Regions from separate parts of the Homo sapiens genome. Here all the other regions are linked to region 2. The links come from fine-mapping of genetic effects on gene expression. A gene starts in region 2. Each other region holds a variant in brackets. All regions are shown on one strand. Distances are from middle to middle. Region 1 overlaps ATXN10 (ataxin 10). Region 2 holds the start of ATXN10 (ataxin 10). Region 3 overlaps ATXN10 (ataxin 10). Region 4 overlaps ATXN10 (ataxin 10). Region 5 has its middle 92 kb from the start of MIR4762.

Evidence for each region. PIP is the estimated chance that this variant, and not a neighbour inherited with it, causes the effect.
Region 1: its variant is the best candidate, but not a certain one, in a credible set for the expression of ATXN10 in esophagus muscle (GTEx, PIP 0.84).
Region 3: its variant is the best candidate, but not a certain one, in a credible set for the expression of ATXN10 in testis (GTEx, PIP 0.82).
Region 4: its variant is the best candidate, but not a certain one, in a credible set for the expression of ATXN10 in transverse colon (GTEx, PIP 0.56).
Region 5: its variant is the best candidate, but not a certain one, in a credible set for the expression of ATXN10 in sun-exposed skin (GTEx, PIP 0.70).

What each region holds. Positions count from the first base shown.
Region 1 is chr22:45,732,767-45,737,873 of GRCh38, forward strand. The region is part of intron 7 of ATXN10 (ataxin 10); the gene reads left to right. Among named protein-coding and RNA genes, the nearest start is that of MIR4762, 25 kb to the right of the region's middle. The variant G/A (reference allele first, on the strand shown) is at 2,592.
Region 2 is chr22:45,669,344-45,674,450 of GRCh38, forward strand. ATXN10 (ataxin 10) reads left to right here and starts at 2,491. Exons shown (of 12, transcript NM_013236.4): 1 at 2,491-2,836. The coding sequence starts at 2,721. RefSeq lists silencers at 2,164-2,353, 2,414-2,463, 2,794-3,123.
Region 3 is chr22:45,777,111-45,782,217 of GRCh38, forward strand. The region is part of intron 9 of ATXN10 (ataxin 10); the gene reads left to right. Among named protein-coding and RNA genes, the nearest start is that of MIR4762, 19 kb to the left of the region's middle. RefSeq lists a silencer at 526-585. The variant A/C (reference allele first, on the strand shown) is at 2,540.
Region 4 is chr22:45,740,586-45,745,692 of GRCh38, forward strand. The region is part of intron 9 of ATXN10 (ataxin 10); the gene reads left to right. Among named protein-coding and RNA genes, the nearest start is that of MIR4762, 17 kb to the right of the region's middle. The variant TC/T (reference allele first, on the strand shown) is at 2,248.
Region 5 is chr22:45,849,677-45,854,783 of GRCh38, forward strand. No RefSeq gene overlaps it. Among named protein-coding and RNA genes, the nearest start is that of MIR4762, 92 kb to the left of the region's middle. The variant A/C (reference allele first, on the strand shown) is at 2,578.

The DNA of each region.
Region 1 (5,107 bases), 63 kb after region 2:
GCAAATGCTACAAATCAGGGTTTTCCACCTGCCTCTTCCACCCCAGCCATTCTTCTGCCAAACCACTGCATTTACTCATTGGTGATCTTTTTAGGACAAGATAGATATTCAGTAAAGTTCTCAATGCTATGACTGAAAAGTGAGAATGGAAACAGTTGTATTTATAGCATGTGTTTTTTAATTTATGTAATTGTTTGGCTTTAAAATCCCAAGGTTTTCTTCATACGTTTCTTTATAAAAATAGTTTTGGGTTCTCATGTTAATGTACTTATTCCTGTCTTTTGATATATTTTGTATACTTGTTTCCAGTTTTTGATATATTTTTGTCAGTTCAGAATCTTGTTCACTTGTAGCAAGCCTTGCCTTTTCTCTGAAAGCTCAAAAAACATTCCTTTTAGCTTTGTATTTTCTGATATCCATATATTACAATAATTGTTGCCAGGTTGTGGGATTTGCATTCTGTTTTAATCTTTGCAACCCCAGGTTAGGCCATACTGTAGTACCTGTTATGCAGTAGGTATTACATATTTAATTACATAATACATATTTAATACATATTCTACAATAAATAGTGTATTTTTTCCACATATTAAGGGCTTAAATTTTTGTATTACGCAAATAATGCTTGCTTTGTTGTTAAAAATTATTTAAGCTGAAGTCAGTGAAACATAAAGTTACAAAGTTTCAGCCAGGCGTGGTGGCTCATACCTGTAATCCCAGCACTTTAGGAGGTCGAGGTGGGCAGATTGCCTGAGGTCAGGAGTTTGAGACCAGCCTGACTAACATGGTGAGACCCCCGTCTCTACTAAAAATACAAAAATTAGCCGGGTGTGGTGGCGGATGCCTGTAATCCCAGCTACTCGGGAGGCTGTCCCAGCTACTCGGGAGGCGGAGGCAGAGAATCACGTGAACCCGGGAGGCGGAGGTTGCTGTGAACTGAGATTGTGCCATTGCACTTCAGCCTGGGCGACAGAGCAAGACTCCCATCTTAAAAAAAAAAAAAAGTTACAAAGTTTTCCCCTTTTTGCCCAGCCTCCATTTGTTTTCTATAGATCTGCATATCCTTTTTTTTTTGTTTTCTTTTCAAAGGTCTTTTTTTGTATATACACACCTATATGTTTTTTGTTTTCATTTTTTGCACTATTCTTCAACTTGCTGTTTTTACTTATGATGTAACTTGTACATCTTTGCACTTTAGCATGTGTATATTCATTGTATGTTTTTAATAGTTGAATAATATTTAACTATATAGACTCATCATAATTTTTTCATTTGTTCCCTATAGACTTTCCAGCTGCTTTCAGGTTGCTTTTTTTTTCTTTTAACCTTTACAAATAATGTTATAGTGAACATCCTTGTACAAATTTCGGTTAAGTAAATCAAATCCAGGTTATAAATTCCTGGAGTTGAATTGCTGGGTTGAAGAATTATGTGTATTTAAAAACTTTAGAGAGATTTCTAAGTTGCACATCAGTGCAACACAAGATTGCACGAGTTGCCTTTTGCAGATCTGATTTAATTACTATTTCTCGTTAATGTTTTTCAGTGACCATTATGTTTGTTTTTGCATATTAGGTTACTCTTTAAAATGCATTTATTAAAAAGCATTTTCTGGAAATTAGTCTTTCTGTCATACATACAGTAAACTATTGTTTACGTAATTTTTGTTTGAATTTATTTCTGATGTTCTGTTAGCCTTGTAGTCGTTTTTTGTTTGTGTTTAATCTAGTTGAGGTTATCAATTTTATCCTTCTGGCCTCTGGATTTTTTTTTTTTTTTTTGACAACTGACAGCCAAGAAGATTTTTGTTTGTTTGTTTGTTTTTTAAGTAAATTCTCCACTTAGATTGTGGAAATACAAACCTACATAGTCTAGTTCTTTCAGTACTTAGTTCTCATTTTTTATTTATCTAGAATTTATTTTTGAGTAAGGAGTGAGTTATGGATCCAAATGAATTATTTATGTCTTTTGACTATCCAAGATTATAAAATCTTTTGGTGTGAGACTGACTGGGTTTGAATCTTGATTTCTTCTGTTACAGGCATATGATCTTGGAAAAGTTACTTAGCCTCTCTCTGCCCTTCTTTTTCTTGAAATGGGTTATATTATTATTATTATTATTATTATTATTATTTTGAGATAGAGTCTTGCTCTGTTGCCCAGGCTGGAATGCAGAGGTGTGGTCTTGGCTCACTGCAACCTCCGTCTCCCAGGTTCAAGCGATTCTCCTGCCTCAGCCTCCTGTGTAGCTGCAGGCACCCACCACCATGTCCGGCTAATTTTTGTATTTTTAGTAGAGATGGGGTTTCGCCTTGTTGGCCAGGCTGGTCTTGAACTCCCGACTTTGGGTGATCCACCCGCCTCGGGCTCCCAAAGTGCTAGGATTATAGGCATGGGCCACCGTGCCCGGCCAGGTTGTATTTTAATATAAACATTTAATATACAGATTGGTACATAGTTAATGTTCCCTAAATGTTATCTGTTATTATTTCAGTACCATTTAGTGAATAATCTTATCCTTTCCACTAATTTTTTTTTTTTAATTGAGACAGGGTCTCGCCCTGTTCCCCAGGCTGGAGCGTAGTGGTGCA[G/A]TCGTAGCTTGCTATATTCTCCAACTCCTGGGCTTGAGGATCCTCCCACCTACCTATATCATATCCTAAATTCTTTTATTTATTTGGATCAATTACTGGTTCCCTCCAAACAAATTGGAGGGAACCAGTAAGATGTTAACAACTGGAGAAGGGAGAATTCAGAGAGGTATGTGTTTATATGCCATAAAGGAACACTGAAATGAACACACAAAAAAATGCAGAAACTGATCTATCAACAAAGTAGTTGCAGTCCAGGCAGATATAACTAATTTGCATTTTAATGGACAGGAATAATTCTGTATTAATATAAGTTTTCTGTAACTTACAAAGCTGTAAAATTGCTCAAAGATACGAAATGACAGTGTTAACTGAGACAGGTGAGCTAGACAGGAGACTAATCTTTTTTTTTTTGCTCACTTCAAAATCTTTCACGATGTTCCCTTCATTTGCTTGTCTTTTTTTTTTTTTTTTTTTTTTTGCCCTAGTGCCTGATTTAATTAATATTAGTTTCATAAGACTTTTAAATATCTGGAAGGGCATTTTACTCATTAATCTTATTTTTTAAGACAGTAATTTTTCCTGGCTGTTCTTTCGTTACTAATTTCCAGATGCTCATTAGAAACACTTTCTTAATAAAATGATTTTAATGAGTAAAATTGTGAATGTGTTAGGTGGGGATAGATTAATTTTCTTTTAGGTTTATTTTAGTTAATATCATAGAATTTAAGAGCTGGAAGGAGACTTCCAGTTCATCTCTTCCAACCTCTAATTTTATTTCTGTCATTTTAACGTGGAAAATTTCAAACATAGACTAAGAAGAAAGTGTACTTATACTCCATATGCCATCCCCTGGCTTCAGCAGCTTCCCCTTCATCACCATTCTTCTTTCCTCCACAGTTCCACTCATTCTTATGCCAGTTGCCGTGGACTGAATCAAAGCTCCAACATATTTCATCAGTTACTCTAAAAGATAAGGAGTTTTCAGACACAAGTATAATATGAAGAAAACATCTAAAATAACTAATAATAACATTTATTATCAAATAAATAGTATTCAGATTTCCCCCATTGTCTAATAATCTTTTTCAAGTTTATTTTGTTGAAACACCTTACAGATAAGGGCCACCTTATCTGTAACACCTTACAGATAAGGGCAAGTGATTGACATAACTTTACTCCAGTGTATAGGTTCCCCTTTCCTCTTCTTTTTTTCCTCTTTGCTACTTATTTGTTGGAGAAACTGGGTTGTTTTTCCTGTAGACTTTTCTAGATTTTAGATTTTGATGAGTATGTCTTCAGGGTGGCACTTAACATATTCTTCTTTACCTTGCATTTCCTGTGAATGAAAATTCGTTCCAGAGGCATATTCAGATTTGGGTTAGTTTTTTTTGTTTATTTTTTGCAGTAGTGTTTCGCTGTTGATGATACTACTTTCGTCAAGAAGCACATGAGGCTTGGTTGTCTCTGTGATATTAGCAGTCATTAATGATCACCTAGATCCATGAATTCTTTAGGGGTTGCAAAATGGTGGCATTTTAACATTATTGTTCATTTTTTGTTTATTAGCAGGAATATTTTTTAAAGAGAAACTTTCCCTAACCAATTCTTAGGTTCTGTGAGGTACACTGGATGAAGAAAGGCAGGATAAGTGCTCGATTGTTTTCCCTCTTGATTACCAATCTTCAGAATAATGAGTTGGTTTTGTGGCATCATTCAAAGATGACCAGTGAGTTGGTTTGTTTTGTTTTATTTTCATTATGAAGCCATAGCTGTAAAACCGCTTGATTTGTTTTCAGTCCGTTACCGTTGTAATTCTTTCTGATGTTTAATGTGCCACTGCTGGCCGGTGGGAGCCTCATCAAGTTGTTTCTGATTCCGAATTTCTGACATGACCCTAGTAGCCTGTAATAGCGTCTTTGTTGTCTGCTATGACAAGATGTCCAGGGTTACCTTTTGCATGGGCTGTCCCAGGTCTGTTCTTGAAGGAGCAGTGGTATCTCACGATAACAATCTGGGCAGCTACACCTTTAACAAAAGAGGTTGATGAAGCTTTGTGAAATTGATGGAGTTGGTCAAGACTCGTTTTAACATGGTACTACTAATCTAGACTTCTAATCTAGATTTTCCCACTTAACTCTTTAGCAAAAGAAGGCTATGATATAAAATTAAAGATCCAAGACATTAAAAATATGAGTTGTTTTTTGCTATTTATTTTGAGATTTCAGAATACTATATTAATGTATTACCTTTAAATCTCTTAATTAGAAAACAGTAAATACACATTTAGAACTAACAAGGAAGTAATTTGTCTTTCTTTTGAAGAATGTTATCTCTTTTTTTTTTTTTTTTTTTTTTGTTTGAGGCAGAGTCTTGCTCTGTTGCCCAGGCTACAGTCCAGTGGCGTGATCTTGGCTCACTGCAACCTCTGCCTCCTAGGTTGAAACGATTCTACTGCCTCAGCCTCCCTAGTAGCTGGGATTACAGGCACCCACCACCAAGCGTGGCTAATTTTTATA
Region 2 (5,107 bases):
TAAATCACCCTCTCTCCTGATTCGTCCTTTTTTCTTTAAAAAGTTGAGCTTCTCTTTCGTTCTCCAGAGCACTCCCCAAGGCAACTTGGATGTGTGTCCTGGACTGCAATGCTCACGTTGGCCCAAATAAACTCTTTATATTGATTTTACCTCAGCTTATTCCTTTTAAATAGACAGAGGACAATAAGGAGGTCAGTATGGCTGAAGCACAATGGAAGAGGAAGAGGCTAGTAGATGTGATTAGAGCCCACAGGGGCTGGAGGTGATGGCGAAGGAGGAGGCAGGTCATTTAGGGGCTTTTCTATTGGAAGAACTTGGCTTTTACTCTGAGTGAAATGGAAATCCCTTAGAGGGTTTTGGGCAGAGTTAAATGTTGAAATATTTTTTAAACGATCTAAAACGTAAGGAAGCAAGAGCAGAGGCCAAAAGACCAATCAGGAATATATTACAATATTCCAGGCAAGAAGTATGAATATTATAGGGAATGTTTTTCTGGGAATGTTACATTTGAGAATAAGAAAACTAAAGGCCAGGTTTTTTTGTTTGTTTGTTTGAGACAGAGTCTCCCTCTGTTGCCCAGGCTGGAATGCAGTGGTATGATCTCAGCTCAGTGCAACGTGTGCCTTCCAGGTTCAAGCAATTCCCTTGTCTCAGCCTCCCAAATGGCTGGGACTACAGGCACCCGCCACCATGCCTGGCTAATTTTTAGTAGAAAGGGGGTTTTGCCATGTTGGCCAGACTGATCTTGAACTCCTGACCTCAAGTGATCTGCCCGCCTCGGCCTCCCAAAGTGCTGGGATTACAGGCATGAGCCACCGTGTCTGGCCTAAAGATCAGGATTTTGGTGCATAACAAGTACATTTTACTATCCTGTGCTCCTCAAGGGAAAATTAAGAGATTTTTGCCCTGTTAGCTTAAGGAGTGTTAAACATTTTGCATTGTCTTGAGCACTGCTACTAATAAGTGATCTAATACCTGGCACATAGTACACCGCAATATTCGTGGAATGAATAAATACATACTCAATTAAATGGGTAAACTGAATGACAATATCAAGTAACTTGCTTGTGCAGCAGCATTCATTTCCCTCCCTCCTTTTTTTTTTTTTTTTTTTTTTTTTTTGATACAGGGTATCATTCTGCCACCCAGGCTGGAGTGCAGTGGTGTGATCACAGCTCACTGCAGCCTCGACCTCCTGGGCTCAAGTAATCCTCCTGCCTTGGCCACCCAAAGTGCTGGGATTACAGGCATGAGCCACCATGCCCCACCAGGATTCACTTTTTCTGCATACTCTGGTGGTGTTTATTGTTATCTTTACATTTTATTTAGCAAAGAATGTTAAAAGCGCCATGTTATAAGCACACTCCTACCCTCCAAGCAGAATGTAAAGGGTATGTATTTATATATTTTAAGTGGTCCCACAGCAATTTGTACAGTTATAGCAGTTCACAACTATACTCAGTTATGTTTGCTTCTCTCCTTCTCAATAGTCTGTGAGGTTCCTTCAGGTTTGGAACTGTCTTTTATTAATCTTTACATCTCCAGCACCTAGCGCAGGGCTTAGCAACAATTTTTGTTGAAAGTATATACACTGTAATAAAGGGCAGTGGAAAGAAAATATGTGAGTTATCAACACCAGCTAGAGAAGCCTTGTCTGATTCCTGTGAAATATATTCATTTCCCTTAGGAAAAAAAACAATTCTAACCCTATTGCTGTGTAACTTAGCTTCTTGACTTCGAACGGTATTTTAAGGCTTTGAGGAGCTGGAGCAATGTATACTCACTAGAGGCAAAGTGCCTGGTAAGTGGTCTGGTATTGATCAGCAATGATCAGTAAGTACTGGGAAGTGCGTTTTCAGGGCCTGAGACTTGCAAGCTAGTGACAGACCGCTCCAGCTTCCAGTGGACCCGGGCGGGGGCACTGATCAACCCACTTGAGCAGTGGGATCAAGGTCTTCAGCCTTAGCAGTGGGAGCCTCTGCCCGGCCCCCTTCGTTCCCGAGACCCTCAGTCAGCGTCTCCTCCCAAGAGGGTCCCCTCCACCCAGAATGTCCTCCCCTGGGGGAGACCACTCTGTCTGCGGGCCCCCTCCCACAGGAGGGCCCCTCTTCCTCAAGGTGAACCTCTGTCCCCGATACCCGCTCCCAAGACCGAGACCTTGTTACGGCCCCACCCTCCACAGGCCCCTTACCCCCCGGATCCCCTCCCCTGGGGGAGACCCCTCTGTCCGCGGGCACCCTCCTATAGGACGCGCCCCTCTTTCTCAGGGTGAACCTCTGGTTCCCGATACCCGCTCCCAAGACCGAGACCCTGTTACGGCCACATCAACACAGGTCCCCCTCCCCCCGGCGTCCCCTCCCCTCGGAGGAGCCCCGTCTGCGACGCTTCCCAGTCAATCACCCCCAGCATCCCTCCCCGCTCTCACCCAGAACTTCCGCCGCGCCCCCTCCCCTCAGGCGGGACTTCCGCCGGCGCCCCCTCCCCCGCGGCGCCGTCTCCTCCTCCCGCCTGAGGCGAGTCTGGGCTCAGCCTAGAGCTCTCCGGCGGCGGCGCAGCTTCAGGGCAGCGCGGGCTGCAGCGGCGGCGGCGGTTAGGGCTGTGTAGGGCGAGGCCTCCCCCTTCCTCCTCGCCATCCTACTCCTCCCTCCTCGTCATCCTCCCCCTTCGTCCTCCTCGCCTTCCTCCTCCTCGTCAGGCTCGACCCAGCTGTGAGCGGCAAGATGGCGGCGCCCAGGCCGCCGCCTGCCAGGCTGTCGGGCGTCATGGTGCCGGCGCCCATCCAAGACCTGGAGGCCCTGCGCGCGCTCACGGCGCTCTTCAAAGAGCAGCGGAACCGGTAACGGGTCCGGCCGGGGGGCTGCCCCGGGCAGGGGAGGGCGGCCGGGACTCCCGCGGCGGCCCCGGCCTGGACCCAGGCGCCGCCCCCGCCTCGCTGGAGACGCGGAGGGCGAGGCCTGCGCGGGCTGCCTGAGCGCCACCCAGGCCTCCCGACTCCCAGGCACCGCCTCGTGCTCGTGGGTCCCCGCGGGGCCTGGGGCGGGCGCCCCGCTCCCCCACCGCAGCCAGTCCGGGTGCGAAGCCGCGATCCCGGGAGCCCTTGCCGCGGCGTGCCGGTGATGTTGACCCAACACACGGTTAGGCCTCCCCTGTCATGTGCGAGGGCTGCGCCAGGCCCTGGCTGCAAGACCCACGCGGCCCCCAGAGTCATAAAGCGTGTGTTTTAGCGGGAGAGACCCGTGTTACGGACGCGGGAATTGGGCAGTTGCGGGGATGGCAGTCTCTAGGCATGGAGTGGGACTGGCACTCCTTTCTCCTCGGCGTTAGAGCCCAGGCTGCACCATCTGCCCTGGGGGCAGCGCTCTGTGCAGTGTGGAAGAGCACGGGCCTGGAGAGACCAGTCCAGTCCTGATGCCACTGAGGGGCAAGATAGCCAGGCAAAAAGAGAAGGTGCCCAGGAGTCGACAGTTGTGGATTTGGTTCCTGGCCTTGCAAGCTGCGTGTTACTGTGCAGTTTCTCCAGGCCTTAGAATTCTTGTCTAAAAATGGGACTATAATACACAGCTTAGTTGCTGGATTGTACAGAGGAATAAATGAAATAAAGTACGTGAAAATATAAAATGTGCGAAGCCCTCAGTCAATGCTTGTTTGATCTTGTTCTGTCCTCTGGGCCTCAGTTTTCTTGTCTATTTAATGGGAGTAAAGTTGAACAGTACCTCCCTGGTGATAGTGTCATAAGGAGTAAATGAGATATAATGCATATTAAATCCTTAGGACATACCTGTACATAGCACTAAATGTAGCTGATATTATCACTTAACACATTGATTGGTAGTTACCCATGTATCAGCTATTGTGCTAGGTGATGGGGTAGGAAAATGGAAAGTCCTTGCTCTCTCCTGTACTAGTATGTACAAGATAACACAGCTGTGGGGGTATGTATGTACAAAGCAGAGGGAACATTGAAGAAAGAAATACTGAGACTTGGGTCAGCCTAGGTGATCACTAGAGGACTTCCTCTCTTTAAACTAGACACCTGGTCTGAGCACTTCCTTTACCTCACATCACTTTGGGAAATGTGGAGCTGCTGAAGGAATGCTATTAATAAAAGTCCCTGGTACTGCTCTATGGGCCTTTGGGGGAGATGTATTTATTGATTTAATGCTTAGGCATTTCTGTATCATGATGGACCCTCCTTTTAGTTAATAACCCAGTCATCAACCATTTATTGAGCACCTACTATGAAACAGATTTTTTTGTTGGGGTCTGAGGGTACAGAGAGGAATGATGTGAGTGATCCCTTTTATCAGGCATATTTGGGAAATAGCTAAATAAACACATTGTAATGGAAATCTATACAAGAGGTGGTGGCACAGGGGAGCATGTGGATATGTTGGAAGATTGGCGAGCCAGGAGAGGCTTTTTAAGGTTATTTCAGGTGCTCGGTTATAGATGAGAGGACTAGAGGGAACAGTGTCTGCAAAGGGGCCATATGTTAATTTTGCAAAACCGATGAGACAATTAAGTAACATAGATAAGGTTTCTCGTACAGAAGAGACATTTAGTCAGACATCAGTTCCCTTTTTATAACTTGGAGAAAATCCAAGCCCCTGAGCCAGTTTAGAAGGCCCTTCTTGACTCTATCTCTTGTGAGGGAAGAAGTTACAGAGAACCATTGATGGTTTTTGTCAAGGGAGTGGCGCGATAAGATCTGCCTGTTAGATCTTCCTGGCCGCCTCCGCCTCCATTGTGGGGAATAAATGAGAGGACGAAGCTAGAGACAGGGGGGACCTTTAAGGAGTGGTAGCGGAAGCCCATGTGAAAGAGAAAAGTGCCTAAATTAGGACATTGTGGGGATGAGTAGAATAAATACTGAGAGATACAAGGTTGAATGGACAGGACTCGGACCAGTTGGATTGTGGGGGGGAGAATGAGGAAATGAGGATGCTTCCCAGATTTCATCTGAGTTCTGGGACAGTGTCCTTGTTCCAGGCAGAGATTGGAGACCAGGAAAGGTGAACTGATGTGCAGGTCCTGGCATGGAAAGACACAGTTGTGTGGTGGTGCAGAGAACTCATGATCAGGGTTTATAAGGACAGGCTTCTGGTCC
Region 3 (5,107 bases), 110 kb after region 2:
TTCAAACTTTGCCATGTTACTCCTAAGTGATACCTTACTTACTGAGATGGATCAGCCTTAGGGAGAGGTTTGTCATACTTTGTTACACACTGAATAGCCTATAATTATCAAGATTATATCCAGTTAGCATAAAGTGCTGTTTAGTTTCTGTTATGTCGTTGTTACCATAGCTGGAGTCGGGTGGGTGTTTAAACCTTTGTGAACTCAAAATTCTTTAATGATGATGGAATATTTCATGTTTTAGTATTCTCTTGATCTAGAGTATATGTTCAAATGTTTTACCAGGTATGTGTTTTTTACAGGTTCATATAATATATAAAATGCATTTCTGTTCCAAGAAAAATACAAGTGGTAAACAGTTGGGAGAGAGCTTGCATATTTTCCTTTATTGTCCTGTCTGATGATTAATGCATTCAGCTATGTTCAGCCTCACGTTTAACCAGGTTAGTGTTTAGTTTGGTTAGGCTGTTTTCCTTATGAGAACAGAAATGGCCAATCCTGTGCCCTGCCTGTCTTCCAGATGGAGTCTTTGCATTGTTTCCAGATCACAGTGCTTAATGTAAGGTCAGATTTTCTTGTGAAAACAGATTTTGGATTAACTATGTCTGTGCACTTGCACGCACCCCTCCGCACCTGCCTGTTCACTTAAGCTCTAGCTGCCTGCTGGAGTCATGGTTCTGATTTCAAGATGCAAATGAGAATTGAGATTCTGCTTTATAGCCTAAAAATGCAAAAGCAAATTCCTACTGCATGAATGGTCTGCAAGTCTCCCTTTCATAGAGACCATGAGGTGTAGTGGAAAGAGCTTGATTCTTATGAGGATTTAATGTAGGGGTGAGCAGACTATGCTGTGGGCCTCTATTTGTAAATAAAGTTTTATTGGGACATAGTTGTGTTCATTTCTTTAATATTGCCTATGGCCATTCTCACACTACAACAACACAGTTGAGTAGTTGCAGTGGAGACCGTATGGTTTGCAGAGTCTTAACTATTTATTTTCTAGCCCTTTACAGAAAAAGTTTGCTGGCCCCTGACTTAATGCAATAAAAAACTCAGTAGTTTGAATCCCAGCTGTGTTATGCAATAGCTGTATGACATTGATCATGTTCTGTAACCTCTTTGTACCTTAATTTTTCCCCTATTAATGTCATTTATCCATTTACTCAGTGAGTATATATTATGAACTTACTATGTGCCAGGCCCTGCTCCAAGCTCAGGAAATACAGCAGTGAACGAATACTGGCCTTTATGGAGCTTGCGTCTCAGTGAAACTTATCTTCATGAGGATAATTGTACATGCCTCCTAGGGAGGATGAGATGAATTAATATATGATACCTGTAAAGCATAAGTAGAGTACATGCTCAGTGTGTTCGTTATTATGCTAACTATAGGGTTGTTAATGTGTAAAACAAAGTAGAACCTCTGTTCAGAGTTGGAACCCTTATAAGTCCGCGTTTACTATTCTTGAGGTTTTTACTGAAATAACGAATGATTAGAAGTAATTGGGCATATATCTGGTACAATTAGCCTAAAAAAGAGAGAGAGGAGCTTGTATGAAATTAGGATTCTCCATTAAGTGAATAAAATCGTGTCACTGAGTTCCCAGCTAAGAGCAGTCTGAGATTGACAAGATTGTTCTTGGTACACAGGATGGCTCACATGGAAAAGATGAGAATGGGAAAAGTAAACATTTGATTAATATATGAAATTAATACTAGTTTCTTTGTATACATTCAATTTTGATAATTAATTAATTTGATATTTGTACAAAAAGGTCCTAGGATGTGAGCACTCTCCATCTTGGCACTCAGGCATGTCTGGTGAGTGGAATGGATACAGAGTATCAGAGGATCTAGAAGCTCCTGATTATATGAGTTGGGGAAAATAATTTTGCTGTGTTCCTCGTTTGTAAAGTAAGGAGACTGGACTGAGTTTTTCCAGGCTCTTTTCAGCTCTTGAGTATGAGATTTATGAATTTTCTCTGTGACCAGATTCCCCAAAATAAAGCTTTGCATCGTTCTTCTCTCCTGCAAGAAGCCACCACTTCTTCCCTTTCATAATGAAGCAACACCTCTATTTCTTCATGTTTCTAAGTACAGAATGCATAATATTGGAGTAACAGGACCCTACTCATCTCGAGAAATTATCAATTTCTTCAACTTCTTAATGAGGATAATTTTCTTTCTTGGGCCTCGTATGTAAGTGGAAGTATGATTTTTGTTGGACCACATAGTCACTGAAGGCACTTTCCAGTTCTGGCATTCTGAGACTCCAGAATATAATTCAGAAGACTATAATTCAGAAGACTAAAGACGGACTGGAAGGAAGAGGGTTATGTTGGGCTTTTGTTGTTGTTGTTGTTCTTTTAAGGAGAGAAACTTCACAGCTGGGAGCGAGACTAGACTTGCTGTTGGGGTGAGTGGCCGTCTTGCAGTACGCAACCACTGGTAGTGATTTCAGGCCTCAGTAGGCATCTTTGTCATTTTTATGTGGTGTTTATGTAGTATCCTTTTTCCTCTAATGCTCTTCCTTTGGTAC[A/C]TAACCTTGTAGGAAAAGTTTAGATCTGAAAGCACAGATGCTGTGAAAGGACCAATTCTATATTGCCTTGCATGGTTACAGACAAGAAAGCGAAGACTTGAAATCTGTAGTTTGTGGTTTGTGATCTAGCAGAGATGAAATAGAATTCGTACATACTTTTTGAGAGTACAAAGAAAAAGAATCATTCGTACTTTATTTGGAAACATGCCATTCTTCTGGGGCTTTCATTTTTAAAATATTTAGGAATTAATAATGTGTTTCTGAAAAAAAAATCTCTGATTGATAAAGAAGTGGAAAAGTATACTCCAATGATTTTACCAATCAGGAGTCCTTGCCCTTAAACATTTGAAGTTAATGTTTTTAATATCTAAGTATTCTACATTCGTGAAATTCCAAATAAAAACGCTTATACAAACAAAAAGGCAGACTGCATCATCTTTTTTTTTTTTTTTGAGACGGAGTCTCGTTGTGTCACCCAGGCTGGAGTGCAGTGGCACGATCTTGGTTCACTGCAACCTCCACCTCCCAGGTTCAAGCGATTACCCTGCTTCAGCCTCCTGAGTAGCTGGGATTACAGGCGTGTGCCACCACGCCCAGCTAATTTTTGTATTTTTAGTAGAGATAGGGTTTCACCATGGTGGCCAGGCTGGTCTTGAACTCCTGACCTCAAATGATCCACCCGCTTCAGCCTCCCAAATTGCTGGGATTACAGGCATGAGCCACTGTGCCCGTCGGACTGTTTGCTCTCATGAGAGCAGGGTGTGAAAGCCCCCTTGTTGCCTGTTTCAGAATTTATGCAGTGTGGTGGGAGGAGGTCTGGCTCTGGAGTCAGGCAGACCTAGGTTCAACCCTGGCCCTGCTGTGGAGTGGATGTGAACCTGTGCCAGCCTGTTTCCCCCTCTGTAGAATGGGATAACAGGAAGTCCTGCCTCAGAGGCTCATAGGGAGGATTAGGTCAGATACTACATGTAACGTGAACAGTGCTGGCCAATGCTTAGTACATATTAACTGCCTTTATTTTTGTTTGCACAAATATATCCTAATCTTCTGAAATTTAAACCTGGATCAGTGACTTGTGTCTTCATTTGCTAATGGAAGTCCTTTGGCACCTTAAAAACAATACGTTGGCAATTGGACTTGGGATTCTGGATTAAGGTGGTGCAGATGCACTTCCCGGTATCTCTCCAGCTAAATACATCCAGAACCCTGTCATCATATATGAAACAATCATGGAAACACGTGACAGGTGGGGAGAAGACGGCATACTAGCAAGGGGCCTTGAGACTCAGAAACGATAAGGTGGCAAGTTCCCTGGGTTTTCTCAGACTGATTAATGTTAGAGAAGCTGTCAACCCAGAAACACCAATGGGTGCAGACCAGAAAGCCCTGAGGAAAGCTCACTCTTTCTCCCTAAAGGACCAAGAAGGGGACAACTTAAGACAGAAAACTTTTAGACAGTAAGTGCCCTATTTCAGCCAAACACCACGGAAAAGAATGTGGCCCCAGCCCACCAACAATGGCTGAATGGGGAGCCGAAACAGAAACCTTCCCCTGGTTATAATGAGGCACCCCTCACCCCTGCTAGGTGGTGTCAGAGAAGATGGAGCTGGGAGCCAGGTTTTTATCCCCACTGGGCAGTAATGAGGCATCCCCCAACCCCTGCCCAGCTGTACTGTCAGCAGAGACCGAGTAGGGAGCATGAACAACCAGCTCTGCCCAGCAGTAGTGAGGCACCCCTCTCTCCCCGGGTGTCAAAGGAGGTTGAGTGAGGGACCTAGATCTTCACCACAACCTGGCAGTAGTGAGCTGCTCTGCCTTCCACGTGCTGTTGTTGAACGAGCTCTGCTAAAATAGGAGACTTAAACTTAAGATTCAGTCTTCTCATACCACTACACCCAAATGTTTAGAGTACAATTTAAAATCATGGGTTACACTAAGGACCAGGAAAATCTTAGCTTAAGTGAGCAAAGGCAGTCAACAGATGCCAATACCAAGATGATGACATGGATGTTGGAATAATCTGATGAGGATTTCAAAGCATCCATCATAGAAATGCTTCTGTAAGCAATTATGACCACACTGGAAACAAATGAAAAAATCTCAGCAAAGAAATGGAAGATACAAAGAAAAGCCACGTGGAAATTTTAGGACTAAAAAAACAGCAACCTGAAATAAAAAGCCAAAACTCAGTGATTGGGTTCAGTGGCAGAATGGAGATGCTGGAAGAAAAAAATCAGTGAACTGGAGGATGGAATAAAAATTATCCAGTCTGAACAACAGAAAGAAAATAGACTGTACAAAAAAGTTAACCAAGCTTCAGGGATATGTGGGACTTTAATAAAAGGCCGAAAAAGTATTCAAAAGAATAATTTCCTCAATTTGGCAAAAACCATAAACCTACAAATTCAAGAGGGTCAAGAGTGGATCGAGTTTCCTTGGTATAGCTTTTGAATAGCAAGTGACTCAACTCTCTGGAAATTTTCATGATCCTATTAACCCATCATTCCTGTTAAAACAAGAAAGGATCTCTTCTCAGTCTTTTATTCTTCATGACTCGGGCCTATTGGC
Region 4 (5,107 bases), 71 kb after region 2:
AATATAGTCCTTGGAAGACATTCACTCTTTTGGAGTGAAAGCTTGAGGTGCTTAGAAAGTAGCTTGGATAGAGAGATATATATTTTATATGAATACACACACACACACACACACACACACACACACACACACACATATATATACACACACACACGTGTGTGTGTGTGTGTATATATATATATGTATATGTTAATATATAGGCTCTTTGGAGCCTAGACAAATTTCTAACACACAGTAGATATTTAATAAACACTAGTTATTATTGCCTATTATCTTAAAAAACAAAGCTTAGATCTATATCCTATGTTTATGGACGATAGCATCATAAGCCTTTTCTTCTAGATGTTTTAAAATGGATATAAAAGGAATATAATATTTAAGTATGAAGTCTTTGAGGACCTAGTAGGCTGCTTTTAGAAACCTCTTATGTGCAGAAGAGCTTAAAGGTAGTTATATTGAGAATGTGAGAGAATGGTAAGAAAGATCTCAGGGCAGTTGGACCACATGCTTCAGATTGATCTCGCCTTTCTGTATTTTTCTGGAGTTTTACTTCGGGTGGCATTTGATTTGCTTAGTTAAATATTAATTAAATTTCTGCCAGATTATATTTTTCTAAGATGGTGGCAGAATGTCTTGCATTGTACATGTGTGTCTGCAGTATGACTTTGCCACTCCCCTGTCGAGGGTTGGCATCTATTTCTCCATCCACTTGAATCTGGGCAGGCCCTGTGGCTGCTGTGAGCAATCAAATATGTGATCCTATACCATTTGTAGCATAGCCCTTAACTGGTCTAGCTGATTCTATTTCTGGCTTCTTAGAAGCCCGTCACTATGTAAGAAGTATAGATTCCCAGAGATCACCTTGCTGCGAGTTGCTGAATACACATGGAAAAGCCCTGGAAGATAAGATACAATGAGGAGAGAGGAAAGGTCTGGTGAAGGAACATCAAGGCATGAGATGTGTGCGAGAAACCATCTTGGGAGTAGATCCATCCTCAGTTTCTTACTTGCCCAGCTGATGCCACATAGATCAGGGCCCCCCTACTGGGCATAGTCCTTCCTGAATTTATGACCCATAGTATTATGAGAAAAAGTAAAAAATAGAAAAAAAAAATAAGGGATATAGGTCCTGCTTCAGTTAGTAGCCCAGTCAGTTACTGTTGGACTGATCCTTCTTCAAATAGCAATTATAAACTTTGGACAAAAAATAGCCATGTGAAGACACTCGAATTTGACACAAACGGGCAGATTCTGGAGTGAAATTGATGCTTGGAAGAAGGGAATGACACAGTGTGTGGCATGCAGGGCAGTGAAAAGTCAGTTACAAAATCTTCCGTCTTTCTAGCTTGAAGAATCAAAGAACAGTTTGAGGGCAACCATGGCATTGGAAAGTGAGGGGGGAATTGTGGAAAGTAGAAAACAGACCCCAAACTCTGGGTGTCAGCTACCTAAATCTCTGCTAATGGCTGAATCACACGTGTGGGGCAGGCTCCAGGCAGCTAAGCTAAGGATGAAGTCATTGTATTGAGATTTGAGCTCCCACCCTAGAGTTTATAGTATTAAGTCCAACTTACACTGTAGATAATTAATAATTGCCCTCTAAAAAAAAAAATCAACACTCTTTAGAGGAATATAATATAATCCAGAATTGCCACAGCATAATGTATCCTGTAATGTCCAGGATACAGTTTACAATTGCTTGACGTTCAGGAAAATGTGACCTGTTCTCAATTGAAAAGATGATCAGCGGAGACTGACTGTGAGAGGACACAGATACTGGGCTTAGCAGACAAGGATTTTAAAGTACCAAATGTAACCGTGCTCAAGGATGTAAAGGAGATACGCTTCATAAGAGTGAAAAGGTGGGATATCTCAGCAGAGAAATAGAAACTATAAAAAAGAACCAAATGGAAATCCTAGAACTGAAAAATACAGTATCTAAAATAAAAAAAAAAAAATACCGAATGTGCTTAACCTCAAGAAAGATCACAGAGGAAAGAGCCAGTACACTTTAAGATACATCAGTAGAAATCATCTAGTCTGAAAAACAAAAGCGGGGAGAAAGATTGAAAATAAAACGGCCGCTTTAGGATGCTAAATGTTAGGGTAATTTGTTATGTAGCCGTTGATAGCTGGAATAATTCCTGTGAGACATGGCGCAGAACCAAACGCTAGACAACTTGCACTTTTAGTATATGGGCGCACCATTTTGGCAATCCTCATCTTCAGGAGAGTGAGACTACTGAT[TC/T]CCCCCTTGGGAAATTACTGGACTGATTTTTGCAAAAGAAAGTTGATAGCGAATAAAGCACTTTACCTTTTTAATGACCAGGACTGCCTTTCTTGAGCACAAAAGAGGTGGTTTTTCTTGTGTTTAACTATTCTTTTGTTGCTAATTTGGACTGGCCTCTTATAGGAACAAAATGCAGTAACCCTTAAAAGGCTTGCGAAATAACTCACTGAAGTCAGGATCAGATTGCACCATAAGTAAATATGGAGTGTGCCCAAGTGCTGCTGTGCAGAGGTCACTGGGGCGCACAGGAAGTCGATGGTGTGTCCTGTCACTTGTGCAGTTGCTAATAGCACTGCTGATTTCTCAGCAAACAGTTTAGAGGGTATGAAGGAGTTCATTCTTTGAGTATCAACTCAAATGCCCTCTGTTTCTCTCAGTTTCTTACGTGTGTCAACAAAAGGCCTGAACCTGAAAGCATTACCTCTGGGATTTTTTTCCTCCTTCCAAAGACCGACACAACGCCGAAATCTTGTTCTGGATGTGCTAGAGTGTTCTTTATTCTTGTAGCCAAATCCTTGTTCCAGCTGGGTGTTACAGATATTTGCCTTGCTCATTGTTGCCTCAAGGGATGGAATTCACTCGCACTCAGATGACTTTGGTTATAGTTTTGGGAAAATGGAATGGATGGTTATGTAGCAGGTCTTTATCACGGGACCAGTAATTCTCAGTGTTTTGTCTTGATGGATTGTCTCACTTCTAACCCAGCTAGGGCTTTAAGGGAAATTTGGCTCTGTCTCTGCTCCAAGACTAAAGATCTGAGTTGGGAGGGATTTCGTATCATCTAGCCTAATTTGGGTTCCTCCTTTGCCCAGAAGACAAAAGGGACTGATGATTTATTGTTTAGTGTTTACTATGTCCTTGCATTGTGCTTAGTGAATTACATATATTATCAACTTTAATCTTTGCATCAGCCTTGCAAAGCAGGTTCTGGTAACCACATTTTAAGGAGAGGCCATCCAGTTAGGTGCAGAGCCCAGGGTAGAATTTGGATTTGTTTGCCTATTGAGTTCCCAGGCCTGTGCTCACTTCCTGCCCCATGGTGAGAACTTGCCAAAAGGTTGGAGAAAAGGGTTTAAAATAGACTTCCTGCAGGACTTCAGGCTGGAGGCTGGTCAGTCTGCGTCTCCTAGGCCAGCCAGGCCCCTTAGACTCCCTCCTGGTTGAAGTTGGGAGCTCTTGGGGGTCCTCTTATCCTTGTTTCTGATTCACCCATTCATCAAATACGAATGTTTGCTGGCTTGGGGATCCTTTGACGGGTAATTCAGGCAAGGTATTAATATCTTCTGTGGAGCTTCCATTCTGGCATCATCTGGGGACCATGCTTGCCTCTTTGAATCAGAATCTCAAAACTACTCATGACACAGATTTTCCTAAAATCTTTGTGTACTGCCTGATTCCTCTGAATTTTGAGCAAGACTCTTTCAAGCCCAACTGTGTCTGTGTTGTCTGTGTAACTTCATCCATTGCAGTGAGTATGGTGCCCACCTGCTGGATGGCCCTCTTACACTTGTGTGGCACTTTCCATTTTCCAGAGCTCTTTTCATCTGCTTTAGTTTGTTGGAGCCTTATGATACCTCTGTGGAAAGGGCTGAAAAGATATTTCCACCATCATTTTCTAAATGAAGAAACCAAGGCCCCGAGACCAAGTGTGATTTAACTCAGCTAGCACTTGCTGAGTGAGAATTGCCGTGTGCTGCATGCTCTGGAGAAGACAGTCGCTTTAGTGGTGGAATGACACATGTCCACTAGGAGCTGTAGCAAAAGTCCGTGTGGTGAGGCCTGTCAGAAAGGAACAGGGGGGTGATGTGTCCTCTGGGCTGGCTGTGCCAGGAGCATTTCTCTCTAAGGACAGGCACTGGACTGCCAGGAGCATGGTATCAACTGGAAGGATGGTCATCTTTCTTTGAGATACTTGTCTTTGGGCAAGATTTAAGAGAATCAAGGTACGTTGCCTCAGATTGAAAATCTGCACAGAAATGTATTTTATCCCAAATTCTCATGAGTCTTTAATGCTTAAGTCTGTACACGTGATAGATGTAGTGTTTCCTGAATTGTAAAGGAATTGCTAGACTTCCCTTTACCTCGTCATGGTAGGGAGGTGTCAAATCCTTACTGACTTCTATTCTTACCTTGTTTTTTTGTTCTCGACTTGTGTAGTATTTCCTTGCTACAACTGTAGTGATTAGTTTACTTCTAAACTTTTGTGGACCTAAATGGAGATTCTGTTTTGGTTTCTATTGTAAGAAGCACAAAGATACTAATGCTATAAACATGAAGAAAGCATTCTTCAGCTTCTTCTTTGTTAGAATAAGGAATGTATGGTTTACCTTTTTCTTCCCTATTCTTCTTCTTTTCACTATTGTCATAACCTCTTTAAGTGAATCTTTATTAGAAGAAAAACCAAACGTTTATTTCATAAAGCTAAGTGCATTTTTCAAATCGGACAGACAGATGATCTAGTTTATCTACCTTCCGCCCGCCAAGGAAATTGTATTGACTAGGATGGGCCATATATCCGTTCTGCTAAAGGTTATGGAACTGCTATTCAGTTTCTTCTCCTCCTCCTTCCTCCTCCCTGATTTAAAATATTCCCAGCAGTCACATACTTGATGATCCCATGTCAAATATATGTGCCTATAAATCTTTTACTATAAGCATACCTTAATTTTAAAGTAAGTCTGTACTGTATGAAAAAGTTCAACATGTAAAGACAAACTTTATTTGGCCCCTTCAGTTCTCAATTTTGAAGGCAGGTTCATTTATATACATAAAATAATCTTTGTAATACATTTTTCGTTAACTTTGTGTTGCTCATCA
Region 5 (5,107 bases), 180 kb after region 2:
CTCCTCAGTATGCTAGAGACCCCTCAAAAAAATTGTAATGGCTTTATCACAAAAATGTACCATAATGGACTTGAGCATTCCCTTCTTTTTTAAATATATTTATGTATTGGTGGGGAGGGGGTCTTGCTCTATCACACAGGCTGAAATTCAATGCCACAACCATGGTTCCCTGCAGCCTTGAACTCCTGGGCTCAATTGATCCTCCCACTTCAGCCTCCTGAGTAGCTGGGTCTACAGGTGTGAGCCAGTGCACCCGGCTACCATTCCCTTCTTGTTAGACATTTTATTTTCTGCTTCTTATCATTAGAAATGCTGCAGTCAACATCTTAGGGCTTAAAGCCTTATCTTTGTTTTAGGTTGCATACTGTGGGAGGTCAAGGAAGGAAGATAAGGGGTTAGAGAAGATTTGTCTCAGAGAAGTAATCATATTAGAAAAGAAAAGGCACTTCCCAACTAGGTAGTTCTGACCAAACCCCTCTGAAGGCAACTGAAACACAGGTCAGAATAGTTTCAGCTACTGTTTAAAGGTACCTGGGAGCTAGCAAGACACAGCAAGGAATTACAGGGCCAGGGTCTGGGAGTGAAAAGAGGCCCAGGAAGATAAGTGTATTTGGGTTGCTGTTTCCTCTGAAAGTATTTTTCACTTCAGAGGAGGAGGCAGAGTGGCTAAGAGGCCAAAGAGTGCTTATGAGAGTCCTGGGAGCCAAGGTGGTGGGATGCTGTCCCGGTGAACCTCCATTGCTACAGGCAGGGGACCCAGTGGGCTGAATCAGAAGAGTCGCAGTGAACCGGAAGTAGTTCCTCCCAGAGACCACACTCAGTTTCCAACCATTTGCACCCCAGAAACTGAACTAAAGTTCCCCTTGTGTGCTATGACGTGTGATGTCAGTGATGCACTACATCCTGGAGTGCTGCTCACTCAGGCGTCTAGCAACAGAAATCTCAGGAAAACGGCTCTACCCTTGGTCTTGCATTATTTGTATAGTTTTTCATACGTTGTCTCAATCAAAAATAGGAGGTGACGAGACAACACGATATGAAAGTCAAAAGAAGCGATAACAAATAGAAACAAACTTAGAGGGGCTCCTGATAGTGGAGTCTTCAGGCAGGAATTTCAAATAACTTTATTCGATGTGTTTAAAGAGACAAAGGACAATATTGGAAACGTCAGCAAAAGAAGGGACACACTGTGACAGGGGGACCAAATGAAAATTCTTGAACTGGAAAAATATAACTAAAATTAAGAAATCAATGGATGAGTTTAGCCACAAAAAAGATAAATAGCAAATGGAAGGAAAATAGCTCAGTCGAAAACATCCAGAAGGGATCGCTGAGAGACCAAATGATGAAAAATATAGATGATAGAGTAAAAGACATATAGGATACAGTGAAAGGTTAAGTTCTGATATCCCTATTTAGGGTCTAAGAAGAGAGGAAAAAATGGGTGCTTTAGTTTTTAGTAATAATACCCAAAAGTCACCACCAAACCTTGGGGTTTGAATATTACCAAGAAAGCAGAGTATTGAGAGAAAATTCACACGAGCATCACTTAGCCTAGAGAGGTGATTCTTTTCGTTCCTTCAATAAGCCAAGCAGTAATTGTGAGCAAGCAGAAGACAGGGCCACCATTTCCCGAGGTTGGTCAGTCTTTTCTCTCTCTCTTTTTGCCTTAGTCTCACTTGCACGTTTCTTGCCCCAGCCAGCGTGTCTAGTGACCACCACTTAGAAACTTCTCATCCCAGTCTGCATAAGGGGCTGGAGTCAATATGTGGTTGGCACGTAGTGCTCTCAGCCAGCTCGTTGCACTCTAAAGAGACTCAGGTGGTCAGCACTCACTCAATCCTCCACGTGCTCTGACAGGCTGGGCTTTGACTGGGTATCTGGGCACTTAGTGTGCTTCTTTTCCTATAAGCTCACAATTGCATTGTTCTGACTGGTTACGCCCACACTAACCTCCTCCGTTACATCATGGGTTAAGGGAGTTATTTACAGCTTACGAGTATAGCAGGGATTTATGTCTTTGGGTAAAGTAACTATGTTTTATCTCAACACACACAACTTCTCACAAACAACATATGCTTATCCCAACAGGGCACACATTTACGATTTTGGCAGGTTTTTGAGTAGTAACATGATTTTCACCTCTTCTAAAAAAATTCTGTAGTGCATTTGAAGGGAAACACGATTACAAGCAAAAGGACATTTTGGTGGGTGTTATGGGCTGAATTGTGTACCCCCAAAATTCATATAATAAAGTCCTAACCTCAGAATGTGACCATATTTGGAGCCAAGGTTTTTAAAGAACTAAGTTAAAATAAAGTCATTAGGGTGGACCCTAATCCAGTATAACTGCTGTTCTTTTACAAAAAGAGGAAGTTTGGACACAGATACAGAGGGAAGACCACGAGAAGACACAGGGAGAAGACAATAATCTATAAGCCGGGGAGTGAGGCCTCAGAAGAGAGAATAAATTTCTGTTGTTTAAGCTGCTCAGTGTGTGGTACTTTGTATGGCAGCCCTGGCAAACTAATAAATGGTAGGAACCTTGTTTGCCAGTTTGTTTGAAACACAGCAAAT[A/C]TACCTAATGTCCTTTGTAATGGAGGATAAGGCACGCGCCACAAAGATTTGTTTCGCACATCACAATGGGGCAGAAGCACTTTTGGAGAGATGCTAGCTAAGAATCTTCCAAGACTGAGACAGACATCAAGCCACAGATTCAAGAATCCTAGTGAACCCCAAGAAGGATAAATCATAGAAAACAACACATTGTAAAACCACTGAAAATTTGTCACTGAGTGACAAATATTTAATCTGTAAAGCAGCTTGGAAAATGGGGGCAGCAACTTCTGAGATGACTCCTATGATTCTACCTGATGCCTTCTGTGATCGTCTCCTCTTGAGCATGGGCTGGACCTACTAAATTGCCTCTAATAGAATATGGTAAGAGTAATGGATGTCACTTGCATGATTAGATTTTTAAAAACTGGAACTTCCATCTTATTGGCACTCTTGCCCTCTCACTTGCTCACTCTAATGAAGTGAACTGCCATGTTGTGAGATGCTCACGTGGCAAGGAATTGAGGGAGGCCTCCAGCCACCATCTTATAAGGAACAGCCACCTGAGTGGTCCAGGAGGCCAGACCCTGCCCAGCCAGCCCTTCAGATGACCACATCCTTATGCAAGACCCAGAGCTGGAGAAACCAGCTAAGCTGCATCTGTTTTCTTGCTTCACGGGAACTGACAGATGTTCTTATTGTAGGCCCTTGAGTTTTGGGATAATTTGTTATACAGCAGTAGTTAATTTACACAAGAAATAACACAGATTACCTTCAGAGGAGTAAATATTGGACTGACAGCTGACTTACCAACAGAAATATGTAAGCCAGAAGGAAATAGAATGCTATCTTTGAAGGGTTGAAAGTAAATAATTGCCAACCTAGAATTCTATATCCCTGCCCTGCCCCCTCGCAAAAAGAAAAATGAAAAGGGAATAAAGATACTTTAGATAAACTCTAGTGAATCATTGCCAGCAGACTTTCACTAACAGAAATACTAACGGGTATTCTTGAGACAGGAAAAAAATGTCAGGGAAGATGTAGTTTCGGAAAAGAATAGAGAGCAAGATAAGGGTGATTATATCAGTATGGAGCATAGCCTTAAAGTATATTAAGCAAAAGCTGACAGAACTAAGAGGAAAAGTAGAGAAATCCACAATCACAGTGGAAATTTTTAATAAATTTCTCCTAGTACTAGAATAAGCAGACAAAAATAATATCTAAGGATATTAAGTATTTGAACAATGCAGTTAGGGTTAGCCTTAGTAGACATATTGAACCCTGAACCCAATAACTTTGAAAGCATGGAAAAGCCAACCTCATGCATTAACATAAATCCAAAGACCCTAAACATGATATTAACAAACTATATATTTTAGGGATGTAAGATTGGTACAACATTTTTTAAAAGCTGGGCACAGTGGTACATGCCTATAGTATCAGCTACTCCGGAGGCTATGGTGGGAGGATCACTTGAGCCCAGGAGTAAAAGACCAGCCTGGGCAAAATAGTGAGATCATGTCTTTAAAAATTAAATTTAAAAATTAAAAGAAAGGCCGGGCGCGGTGGCTCACGCCTGTAATCCCAGCACTTTGGGAGGCTGAGGCGGGTGGATCATGAGGTCAGGAGATCGAGACCATCCTGGCTAACAAGGTGAAACCCCGTCTCTACTAAAAATACAAAAAATTAGCCGGGCGCGGTGGCGGGCGCCTGTAGTCCCAGCTACTCGGGAGGCTGAGGCAGGAGAATGGCGTGAACCCGGGAAGCGGAGCTTGCAGTGAGCCGAGATTGTGCCACTGCAGTCCGCAGTCCGGCCTGGGCGACAGAGCGAGAGTCCGTCTCAAAAAAAAAAAAAAAAAAAAATGTTAAGTCAATTAGAAAACCACCATATTAATAAAATCATTATCAACTAGTACAGGGAAAAAAGTATAATAAAATTCAGCATTCAATTGTGATAGTAAAAATAAACAGCAAATTTGGAGTAGAAGAGAACTTTCTTATTCTGAAGAATACCTACAAAAACCCCTATAGCAAACATTGGACTGGTTGAAGAAATGTTGAAGATTTTCTTTTTGCTATTAAGAACAAGGCAAAAGTCAATCACAATTCACTGCTTACATTTATCCTTATGTTGGAAAGGTGAAATAGCCCATGAAATACAGGGGGGAAAAGGGAGGTGGAGGGGTAATCAAGGGGAAAGAACTAAGACAGTAGGATTGTTTATATAGCTAATGCAAAAAAAAGTCTGCATAAGTTGTTAGAATGAATAAATGAATACAGCAAGGTTGCTGGATACAAGTTTAATATACAAAGGTTCATTGAATTTCTACATACTAGCAACAGAGAGTTGGGAAATAAATTTTTTAAATAAATTCTAAAGTGTATAACGAAATGCAATGACAACAAAACCAAGAATAGCCAAGATATTCTGAATGAAGAACCAAGTGGAGAAGTTGCTCTAGTAAATATCAAAACTATTAAAAGCAAGCTTAGTAAAAGAATATTGTTACTAGCACCCAGGTAGATAAGTAGATCACAGAATAGTGTCCAG